Regions from separate parts of the Homo sapiens genome. Here region 2 is linked to region 1. Evidence: fine-mapped expression QTL. Tissue or cell type: lymphoblastoid cells. Region 1 holds a variant in brackets; the other region holds the start of a gene. All regions are shown on one strand. Distances are from middle to middle.

Region 1 (5,374 bases):
CAATTTTGGTAGGGGGATCCCTGTTGAGCTGGCTCCTGCTCTGTTTCTCCTTACTTAGTATTTGTGATGTTGGAAACATTTTGGGAGCAAATCTCAAGACTTTGCATTTATTTCAGTTAAATAGGATCCCTTTCCCAAGACTGTTAAGGTATCATTTTAGATCCGGGGCTGATATCCACCCTCCCTTGCCAATCCCCATGTCACCCCCAAACCAATCCAGCTACTATCATCTGCAAACTTGCTGAGCTATTTCAAGACCATCCCAAGAGAACAAGAAAATACAATTCACGTTTATTCACTTTGTGCAAAACAGGTTCAAAGATATGATTTTCCCTCAGCATTGTGAGAACTATGAGGTGCCCCTCAGGGCTGATTTGCCCCCAGGCATCACAGTGTATAAGTCAAGGTGACAGGATCAAGGGCGGGGTCCTCATCAATGGAATTAGTCTTAATTTGTCACATGAGAGTCATTCTGCAGTATCCCCAGAGAGTGACGGCTTAGACATGTGGCCTATTTGCAGAAGGCTCACCTGGAGCTAGTAGGAGAGCCGTGGATCGCCCCTCGGTCCTGAGAACTGCCCTACAGGGGGAGGCGCGGGAGTCACTGTGCTTCTGTGAGATAGTGATGAGCAAAGAAGCAGGAATAGCAAGGAAAACGGAAGGGATCTTCACCTGGGTGTAGACTACCACTCTGCTGAGAATCTGCTGCCATCTTTAGAGTGCCCGCCTAGATGCTGATTGTAGGTCAGATACTGAGGGTGACGTCACATAATTTTTCCTGCAATTGTACAACAGCAGCACCGCTTTATCTCCATAGTATAAGTGAGGAAAGGAAGGCACAGACATGCCCAGTAACATGTCCAAGTATCATAGCCAGAAGGGTGTGGAAGCCAGAATCACCTGGCTCTGCTTGTCCCAAACACCTGCTCTGAAGGCCACCTGTTTCATTGACCCCTACACCATCCAGAGCTGATTTGGTTATCAAGAGGAATGGCAGGAAAGAGGAAAAGGAGGCAGGAAGCACTATCTCTGATCACTCCATGCAAACTCACTTCTCAGAATCACTGCACAAGGAAAATAGGATTTCTGTCAGTTAAGCACTAAAGCACTGCAGCTGAAGGCCATTGCCTCACGCCACTACCAGTGGCTCAGTTCAGTCACCTCCTGAGGGAGCCGTGGCTCTCCCCACTGCCTGCTCACCCCTGCAGAGGATCGACGGGAAGCACTTCCTTTGCTGGATGTCTCGGGGCTCGTTTGCAGCCTGCTGAGAAATTTTAGTGTTCTTTTCTTCTTATTACAGCTACATTATTAGGCCTCGTAGTCCTGGTGCAAGCTGGGAGGAGTTCCCCTGATTATAGATTATAAAACAGCATTTTCCCTCTAACAGCTTGAATGGCTTTCACAAAAAGAATTAGGAAGTTTGTTATTTCACTTGATGTGCCAAAATATGCCCATTAAATTCAGCAAATTGATAGAAAAGATACCACACACACCGTCCTGCAGTCTGCATTTACAGCATCACAATATTTGTATTCTGAAGTGTTGCCTGGAACACATTCTCCATATTTGACTTTCCAGACCCGATTATGCAGTTTCATTCAGTTTTTATTTCTACTTTAGTATCAAAGCAGTCTAAGATTTTAAAATTGAAGAAAATATGTTTTCAAGTATGTTTTGAAATATCATTAGCTTTGAAGACTAAATATGCTTTTTAAAATAAAAAGGGTGTGCATTTTCCAGGACCCTAGCCACCCTGCAGAGTTTATCCTGAGCTCTTTAGGGTCTCCACTGTTTGGCCACTTATGTCACACCTTTTATCTTTATCCCTTACACAAGGACATACCATTTTTCCAGACGCTGGTGTTGCCCATGACCTGATGTTAGGCTCTGCAATATTTTCAGATATGAGTAAGAGAAGAGCAGCACTCGTGGCTCAAATAAACAAGAAGTCTGGGGCTTGGCGCAGCAGCTCAGTGGTGTCAGGGCAGTTCCCTTAGCAATCCCCTTAGCTTGTTTCTCACAAGCCACAGAGTAGCCCCTGCAGCTCTAGCCATCATATCACCTTCAAGGCAAGAACATAGCTCAGACCTCTGCCCAACTCTCAGTGCCCTCCAGACTCTGCCAAGTGGCTCTCACAGCGGTAAGGACCAGGAGAAGGCAGGTGCACCATTCAACTTTTGAAATATATGTATATACACAAACACACACATATATACACATATATATACGCACTATATATAGATACATATATACATATATCCACATACATACATACACACACATACATATATATGTGCATATATATGCATAAGTATGTAAAATATTTTGGAAACTCTTGAGTTTTAAATAGAGAAGAAAAAACTTCTGTGTTATGGACTGAATATTTACATCCTCTCAAAATTCATATGTTGAAGCCCTAATCCCTCAATGTGATGGCATTTGGAAGAAGAGATGGGGCCTTTGGAAGGTAATTAGGTCAAGAGAGTGGAGCCTCCATGATGGGATTAATTTGTGTTTTCATAAAAGAGACACCAGAGAACTCTCTCACCTTCTTTCCACTATGTGAGGACGGAATAAGTAGGCAGCTGTTAGGGCCGGGTGTGGTGGCTCATGCCTGTAATCCTAGCCCTTTGGGAGGCTGAGGCGGGTGGATCACTTGAGGTCAGGAGTTCGAGACCAGCCTGACCAACGTGGAGAAACCCCGTATCTACTAAAAACAACAAAAAAAAATACAAAATTAGCTGGGTGTGGTGGCGCATGCCTGTAATCCCAGCTATTCCAGAGGCTGAGGCAGGAGAATCGCTTGAACCCGGGAGGCAGAGACTGCGGTGAGCCAAGATGGTGTCATTGCACTCCAGCCTGGGCAACAAGAGTGAAACTCCGTCT[CA/C]AAAAAAAAAAAAAAAAAAAAAAGAAGGCAGCTGTTTGCCAGCCAGTAAGAGAGCCCTCAACAAGAACCAAATCAACCAGCACTTTGATCTTGGACTTCCCAGCCAGTAGACTGTGAGAAATTAAGTTGTATAAGCCACTCAGTCTATAGTATTTTTTGTTATAGCAGCCCAACCTGAGTAAGACACTCTGCATATACATCTCAGGGAACAGTCTGTCAAACTTTTTATTAATTTTTCCTAAATTGGAAACTTTAAGAATAATTTCCGCTCACAGTTTAGGAAATTGGTAAAACTCATTTGATTATCAGTCATGCTTAAGAACAGATTCAGGCTACTATTTTTTTTTTCTTAATATAAACGCCATGCTTGGCTCTAGAAAATGCAGTGTAAGGAGAGAGGTGAAATTGGTGAGTTCTGTCAGGGCAGGGCTGCTGGACTTAGATCATAAAAGTATTGATATTCATTTAAGTTCTTTCTAATTAGCTATGTATATATTCATTGATATAAAAGAAACATATTGCATGGATATATTTGTACTAAGAATTATTCATCATTTAGCTGAAGTAAATCATAAGAATCTAAGTTACATACCTCTCTTTTATTACATTTTCTTGATGATTTGGTTCTCCTTAGCCATTTCTTGTTTGTAGAACTTGTTTAAAAAATTCCTTGCAGTGATAGCTCATTTTCCGTTACTTTAGTCACTCTTCTGCCCACTGGCTATCATTAATGAGAACAACTGTGCAACATTAGCATTATGAGCTGGCACACTGAGCACACCCCGGCATAAAGTTAGCAACTCTGAAAACTGCCCTTGGGGTTTGATTTGTTGAGGTGCATAATACCACCTCTTTAGTACAGCTTGCTTTCTCATTCTTAGAGATTCCATTGTATCTGTCATTCATCAACTTTTGAAGATGTGGCCCACCACCAACAATAAAAAGGACAGTCAATTTTTATTCCCTTTAACATTACACATGATGTTTCTTGTTGTTCCCAGGTTGAGAGAGTATTAGTAACATTCATGTAAAAGAAAGAAATTTTTAAAGGGATGAAATCCATTTCAAAGATAGTCATGGCAAATGCCATAATAATTATCCACTTTGAGCCAGAATTTCCTTTTCTGCTCATAATTAATGTTGTCCCTTTGAAGAACAGCCATGATACTTAAAGGGATAAATATTTCTTTAATGGTTTCTTTAATGTATTCATAAGTTCCTTTAGGCAATAGAGTCCTTCAATAACACTGTTTGCTCTTCTCTCAATTTGCATAATCTTATTGCTAAGGGGATATTGAAAACTCTGAGCAAGGAATAAGTAGGTTTCACTCAGTAAATTATTTATAAAGTCAAGAAGAAATTTTAGTGCCTTTTCTTCAGAATTAGAGTATGATTTCAGTGCTTCAAATAAACTGAGGAGTCTCTCAACTGAATTTGTTAAAGAGAGAAAACAGTTTTTGAATGTGAGTGAATTGAGCACTACAGAATGCCCAGAAAATTACCAAAGCCCTTTAATTACTCAGTTCAAACAGTATTAATGCTGAAATTAGAGAACAATTTTGTGACAATTACTTTGATGTCAATAGAAAGAACATCAGCTGCTGTTTGAGCAGCATTATGCAGAATATGGGCAGGACAGCCAACCCTGCCACAGAATCATTTATTATGCCACTTTCAATAGACATTGTCTTCTGCACCTTTACACAAACATCCAGCAAAATGTGTATTTGTATCATTTCCATGAAAAGCAGTACTTTTTTTCATTAACCACAAAGTCAATAAGAGAATCACTGCGAAAATCTGCTAATATTATTGATGTCTCCTCTGAAAGATATCTTACTTGGGACAACCGTAGAAGCAAGTGTTTTTCAAGAGAAACATATTGCATGAGCAAAGGGAATTAATGTTTCTGTATTGTGATTACTTGGTTTTGCTTCTGGGTCTGTGCTGTAAAAAGATTAGGTAGTTGGAGCTTTGATAATCTCTGTGATAGTAAATGGAGTGGTTACGTATTTTATTATTGCAGGAGATTCTGTTTTGGCACTTATAAATTTTCTTGCAATGTTGGAATCAGAAAATACTTTTGGCAGCAGTATGTTAAGGCAGTCATTTGAGCTGAAAGACTGAAGGTGATATACAGTGTGGAAGTCATCACAACTTCTGCAATTATTTTGTCTTCTTCATTTGAATTCCTGTAAAGCAAAAAAAAAAAAAAGTTATTTTATCACTTTCTTCGGTACTAGTTGAGGAAATCACATGTCTCTTATGTTTAGCTGTTTGCCTGTGCTAGTTTATGGCTGACTTTCCACTCTTTCTATATTGAATGAACAATTGCATCCTGAACAAAGAGTTTTGTGGGGGCCAAGGCCCTTGGTACCTTGGAGGTTTGCTGAAAATCACTGACATGAAGTAGATTGATTAATAGGAGAAAAGTGTCAACAAAAAGGAGTCAAACTCTAAAATGTTTGAAGAGATTTATTCTGAGTC
Region 2 (5,374 bases), 89 kb after region 1:
AGCCTCCCTTAAAACTCATTTGCCGCTGGGACTAAAGATATGTACCATCACTTTCAGCTAATTTTTAAATTTTTGTTGAGATGAGGCTTCCTTATGTTGCTCAGGCTGCTCTCATGTTCCTGGACTCAAGTGATCCCCCTGCCTTGGCCTCCCAAAGTGCGGAGATTACAGGCATGAGCCACTGCACCTGTCTGAATGTCATTTTTTGAGTGAGGACAAAGTTGAGAGCCAAAACAGGTAAAAGAAGGTGCCATTTATTTGTAAACTTTGCACCCAGATTAACTTTATCATACTTTTTCATTTTCATGTAGTTTGATCCTTTTTGGATATTATTCAGCTTTTCTTTAATAAATTGTTAGGATCCAAAAATATACCACACCAGTTAACAAGAAAATCTTCACTTCAATCTTAACACTTGAAAAGAAAAATCTTGCAGACTTTGCTCCTATTTGGGGATAAGCAGGGGACTAGTGGATAGAAGAAGGTGCTTTCTCAAGTCAGTGACAGAGGTTGGGCCATGCCATCTTTTCAGAGCCAGTGCTGCCCTCTGAGGGCTTCAGCTCAAAGAGGGGAGGAAGGCAAATGAACAGAAAATGAGGCTACAGAGTGGTGGGTATGAATTTTCACGGAAGACTGGGACTGGGGAGAAAGCAACGAGCTGTGCCAGAAGGAGCCAGAAAGGTTTCAGAAAGGATGTTCTGTTGGGGATGCTATTCCAGGAGGAGGGACCAGCTGTCATCAAGTGTCTGCTGGGGGCCTTTGGTGTGAGCTACTGGGGACATGGGATGGGAAAGTGCCCCTACTCTAGACAAAGCCTAGAGGTGTCATCATCTGCAACTATTAAGTTGAAGCATATGAAAGAGCTGACATGTGACAACTTTGGCCCTTTTACAAAAACGGCAATTTTGTATGGTTCAACCTGATACCAATTCCAGATAAAATGGAAATGCCTCAAATTCTAACCTTTGTTCCGTATAACAACACGTGGAATCCCTGAGAGTTAATGGAATCCCTGGGGCATTTCTAAAATAGACCAATGCCTGGGCGAGATCCCTTAAATCCTGGTTTCTGGGAGTGGGGCCTTCTGCAGGGGGCCTAGCCTCCTGGTCTCCATTATTTCATGGGATCCCAGTTCCTGGTCTATCCATATTGAGGGGACGAGAAGCAGCCGGGATAACGGAGGAGGCAGGGGTTCTTGCAGTGGCTACTCCTCTCTAGGCCTCCTGGAGGGAGCTGATCATGAGAGATCCTCACTGTAAGGGGGATGCAGGCAGCCCAGGGGCCGTCTGAGCACCAAATGACATCATGTACTTGAAGCACCAGCACAAAGTTGTCTCCCTCATAGTGAATGAATGTAAGCAGTGGAATTCGACTCGCGGGTTTTAACCCCCATGGGCCAGCGTCCTTCCCTCCCAATTGTCCTGCTAGAAGAAAACGTTTCGCTCTCTCTCGGGTATCCAGCTAATCGTTAAGGCAAACAGCAGCGCCCCTTTTCCTTTCATCTCTTGCCCCATTTCTGCACCTACAGCCTCACACCTTCTTCCCGGGACACAGCACTGCCAGGAGCCCATCCTGGTTCAGTTCAGTACCCAGGAGGAATCCCTCGGGCCGACTCCCAGGACTTTGTTTCTTGGACTTCACCACCGCCGCCTCCCCAGCACAGCTCCCGCAGCCCGCACCCGCCCACAGGGTCTCCGCGACCCTAGAGCTTAGGGAAGAATTGCCGAGGGGCGGGGGGTCCCTCATGCGCATGGAAGGGACGTACGCCCCAGGCCTCCACCTTCCTCCTGACCCCGGGGATTCTTGGACGTCGATTCTCCGTCTCGTAGGGGCGAGGGCCCTGGGTTCGCAGTCAGACGCGGGCCCCTCTCAAATCTAGTGGCCTGGTTTTATTGAGTGGGGGAAGGCACATATTTTCCAAGATTAACTGCCCCGCAACAGGGAATTTCGCAGGATTTCAGTATTTTCGACTCCCCAGGTGACGCCAAGAGGGTGGGTTCCACTGTGCACGGTGGGGAAACTGAGGCTCGGAGGGGACAAGGAAGGTACTCGAGGTCACGCGGCTCCTCCGGCGGGCGGGAACGCAGGACGCGGAGTTGGGGCGCGGGCTGTGCGCGCCCAGGTTCGCGGCTCCCGGGGCTCGGCTGTCGCAGCGCGGTCGCCGCCGAGGACCACGGTCGGGGCGCGGGCGGGCTCCAGTGCGCAGGCGCGGCGGGCGGGAGGGGACGCGCTCCGGGCGCGCGCGCGGGGCAGCCGGCGCCCCAACTCCGCCCGCCCCGCGCCCCGCGCCCCGGCGCCTCGCCGCCCGCCGCCCGCCCGCCCCGGCGCCGCCGCCCGCGCCCCGGCGCCCCGGGCCGGCGAGGGGCGCGCCCGCGGCCGCGGCCGCTGCATGGCGCTGAGATGGCGGGGGCGCCGCGCGGCGGAGGCGGCGGCGGAGGCGGCGCGGGCGAGCCCGGGGGCGCCGAGCGGGCGGCCGGGACAAGCCGCCGGCGCGGGCTCCGGGCGTGCGACGAGGAGTTCGCTTGCCCAGAGCTGGAGGCGCTGTTCCGCGGCTACACGCTGCGGCTGGAGCAGGCGGCCACGCTGAAGGCGCTGGCCGTTCTCAGCCTGCTGGCGGGCGCGCTGGCGCTGGCCGAGCTGCTGGGCGCGCCGGGGCCCGCGCCCGGCCTGGCCAAGGGCTCACACCCGGTGCACTGCGTCCTCTTCCTGGCGCTGCTCGTGGTAACCAACGTCCGGTCCCTGCAGGTGCCCCAGCTGCAGCAGGTCGGCCAGCTGGCGCTGCTCTTCAGCCTCACCTTCGCGCTGCTCTGCTGTCCTTTCGCGCTGGGCGGCCCCGCCCGGGGTTCCGCCGGGGCCGCTGGGGGGCCAGCGACCGCCGAACAAGGGGTTTGGCAGCTCCTTTTGGTCACCTTCGTGTCCTATGCCTTGCTGCCCGTGCGCAGCCTGCTGGCCATAGGCTTTGGGCTCGTGGTGGCTGCGTCGCACTTGCTGGTCACAGCCACCTTGGTCCCCGCCAAGCGCCCACGTCTCTGGAGGACGGTAAGTGCAGCCGCGCACCCCTCATCTGGTCTCGGACACACTTGCTGGGACGATGCTGGGAATGCCCGGAGTCGGGCGCGCTTTTTCCTATGCGGCGGGTGGGGACACTGAGGCTCCGAGTGGGGGTGTGTTCAAGGTCACTCCTACGAGTTGGGGACGCAGTCGGGGCTGGCACCCTCCGGCCAGGGCTCTCTTCAGAGTTACAATCCACGAAGCGCCCCTGGCGTGAAGTGTGGAGAGGGGAGACAGGTGTGGAGAGAGAAAGGTTTGGCCAAGGTCAGGGAGCTGATGAGCGGCCAGACGGCGGCCAGAGGGGTCCGCCGGTCTTTTGCCGCACCCATCCCCACAGAGGGACTGAAAGTGGGCGAGGAGAGCAGACCCCCAGGGCAAGCTCCAAGGCCGGCTCTGCGCGCAGCGCTGGGCTCTTCCCCTGCGCACCTAGAGCGCGTGCTGGGCTCGCCTCCCAACCCTGCGGACCCGAGGGTGGTATATGGGTGGTGGGAAAGGACTTCGGCTCTTCCAGCCTTGCTGGCCACCCTTCTGTGGACATGCCTCCGGCCCAGAAAGAGTGGGGTTTGCCAAGGTCAAACACAGTCTAGTCCCTGCCGCTGCCACTCGGCGGTTGCCCTGACCCTGCCTTTTCTGCGCCCGAACTTTGTCACTGTCTTCCCAGTCGGGCGGGCGAGATGGTTGCAAGGACGGGGACGCTGTCTGCCTCCCGCGGACTCTTCCTGGGCCCTGGAGGAGCCTGCTCTTCCAACTGCCCGGAGGTGGACGTGGACCAGAGGTCTTTGCCCCACGGCGGGGCTTTGAGAGCTTCCCCTTGTGCCCATCTCCAACGGGCCGCAGGGATGGGGCTGGGGAGTTGGGGGGTGGGGAGATTTGGAAGACCCTGAGGAGGGTTTTGTTTCTGCCTCTAGCTGCAGTTTAGCAGGGGGATGGTATGACTCAAATGGAGTGGGGGAGCCCATCTCACGAAAGGAAGCAGTGGTGGGAGCAAACTGGGGAGAGGTAAGGGGTCGGAGGGGAAGCTGAATCCAGAGAGATTAGGGAAGAATAACTGGGGGGCGGTGGTAAGGAGTCCCACAGCCCGGCCCCGGGGGACCAGCACCCAAGGATCTAAGGAGGCATCCTTAGACTGTGATGCCAGGGGCAGCACACAGTCAGAGGAGCCATGAGATGCTCAACCTGGCACAGGGATAGACACATCACTGGACTTGTGTCTTAGGGTCAGAGAGAGACCACCATGTGCTCAACCCGTGGGCAGGGGCGGGAGGGAAGAAGGCAGGAGTACATGGAGAATTGTCAAAGAGGGCGTCGGAGGAAGAGAGGAAGAGAGGTAGAGGTGAAGGGCAGAGGCACAAAAGGATGGCTAAAGGCTGAGGAAAGGGGAAAGGAGCCAGAGGACTTCATGTCCTGGAGGGGAAGGAGGCTCTTCCACAGCCTCCTGTGGGCAGCACGTGGGCCTTGCCTTATCAGTCTCAGGGGGCATTCCTGTATCTCCTACTGCCTCCACCCCCCATCTGTCTGTGTTTAGCCTGGGCCTCATGCTGGCCCCCACAGCCAGACCCGCAACCGCAAGACGGCCTCCCCAATCTGACCAGATGCCAGGGCAGCTTGGGAATAGGGAGGGGCTGAGCTTGGTCCCTGGGCAGGCCCAGGGATCCCAACCACACTGCATTCTCTCTTATTACACCAGGGAGTCAGCTGGTGTAATAAAAGGCTGCGTTATTGTCTTTCTCTTTTAAAATAAAGACATTTCCTATATAGCCTCTAGTCATTTCTTTTAGAGAATTAAAGATTAAAAAAGAGAGAGGGGAGAGTCTATAAAGGAGTTTCTGGACACAGGGAACTCTGCCTCTCCCCCTGGGATAAGATGAGCCCCTGTGACTGTCACTGTAGTGGGGAAGGAAGCCCATCCTGGGAGCAAGGATTCTTAGGGAGCAGACATCTGGGTTTCCCTGCTAGCTGTGACTCCCTGGGCAATCCAAAGCCTTCCCTCACTGAGCCTCAGGTTTCTCACCTGTGTAAAGGGCAGAATGGCCCCCTGCAGGGTTGTAGTGAAGGTAAACACTTCCTATTGGAAAAGCACATATTGGCCTTTTTAGAATGTTCTATTCAAGTCCACGTGTCTATACAGGTGGTAGTGATACTGACAAACACATGGGGATCAATGCAGGGAGACTTACAGTGGGGGGAGCAGGGCAGATGATTCCCAGGGATTCTGCTTTCCAATTAGAGAATTCCAGGAGCCTGTGAAATCTGTCCATAATGAGCTCTGCAGTTTGGTGCTTGAGATGGTGAAGAAGACAGCACACGCATTTACACAGCATTG

Direction of the effects. Alleles are on the strand shown, and positions count from the first base shown. SD is a standard deviation of normalised expression in the study named.
With allele CA in place of C in region 1, the expression in lymphoblastoid cells of the gene that starts at base 2,225 in region 2 is higher (moderate effect, 0.68 SD a copy in TwinsUK).

What was found. PIP is the estimated chance that this variant, and not a neighbour inherited with it, causes the effect.
Region 2: ADCY1 starts here. The variant in region 1 is the best candidate, but not a certain one, in a credible set for the expression of ADCY1 in lymphoblastoid cells (TwinsUK, PIP 0.51).

What each region holds. Positions count from the first base shown.
Region 1 is chr7:45,483,117-45,488,490 of GRCh38, forward strand. No RefSeq gene overlaps it. Among named protein-coding and RNA genes, the nearest start is that of ADCY1, 89 kb to the right of the region's middle. The variant CA/C (reference allele first, on the strand shown) is at 2,887.
Region 2 is chr7:45,572,144-45,577,517 of GRCh38, forward strand. ADCY1 (adenylate cyclase 1) reads left to right here and starts at 2,225. Exons shown (of 20, transcript NM_021116.4): 1 at 2,225-3,039. The coding sequence starts at 2,401. RefSeq lists an enhancer at 1,239-1,799 and a silencer at 2,611-2,710.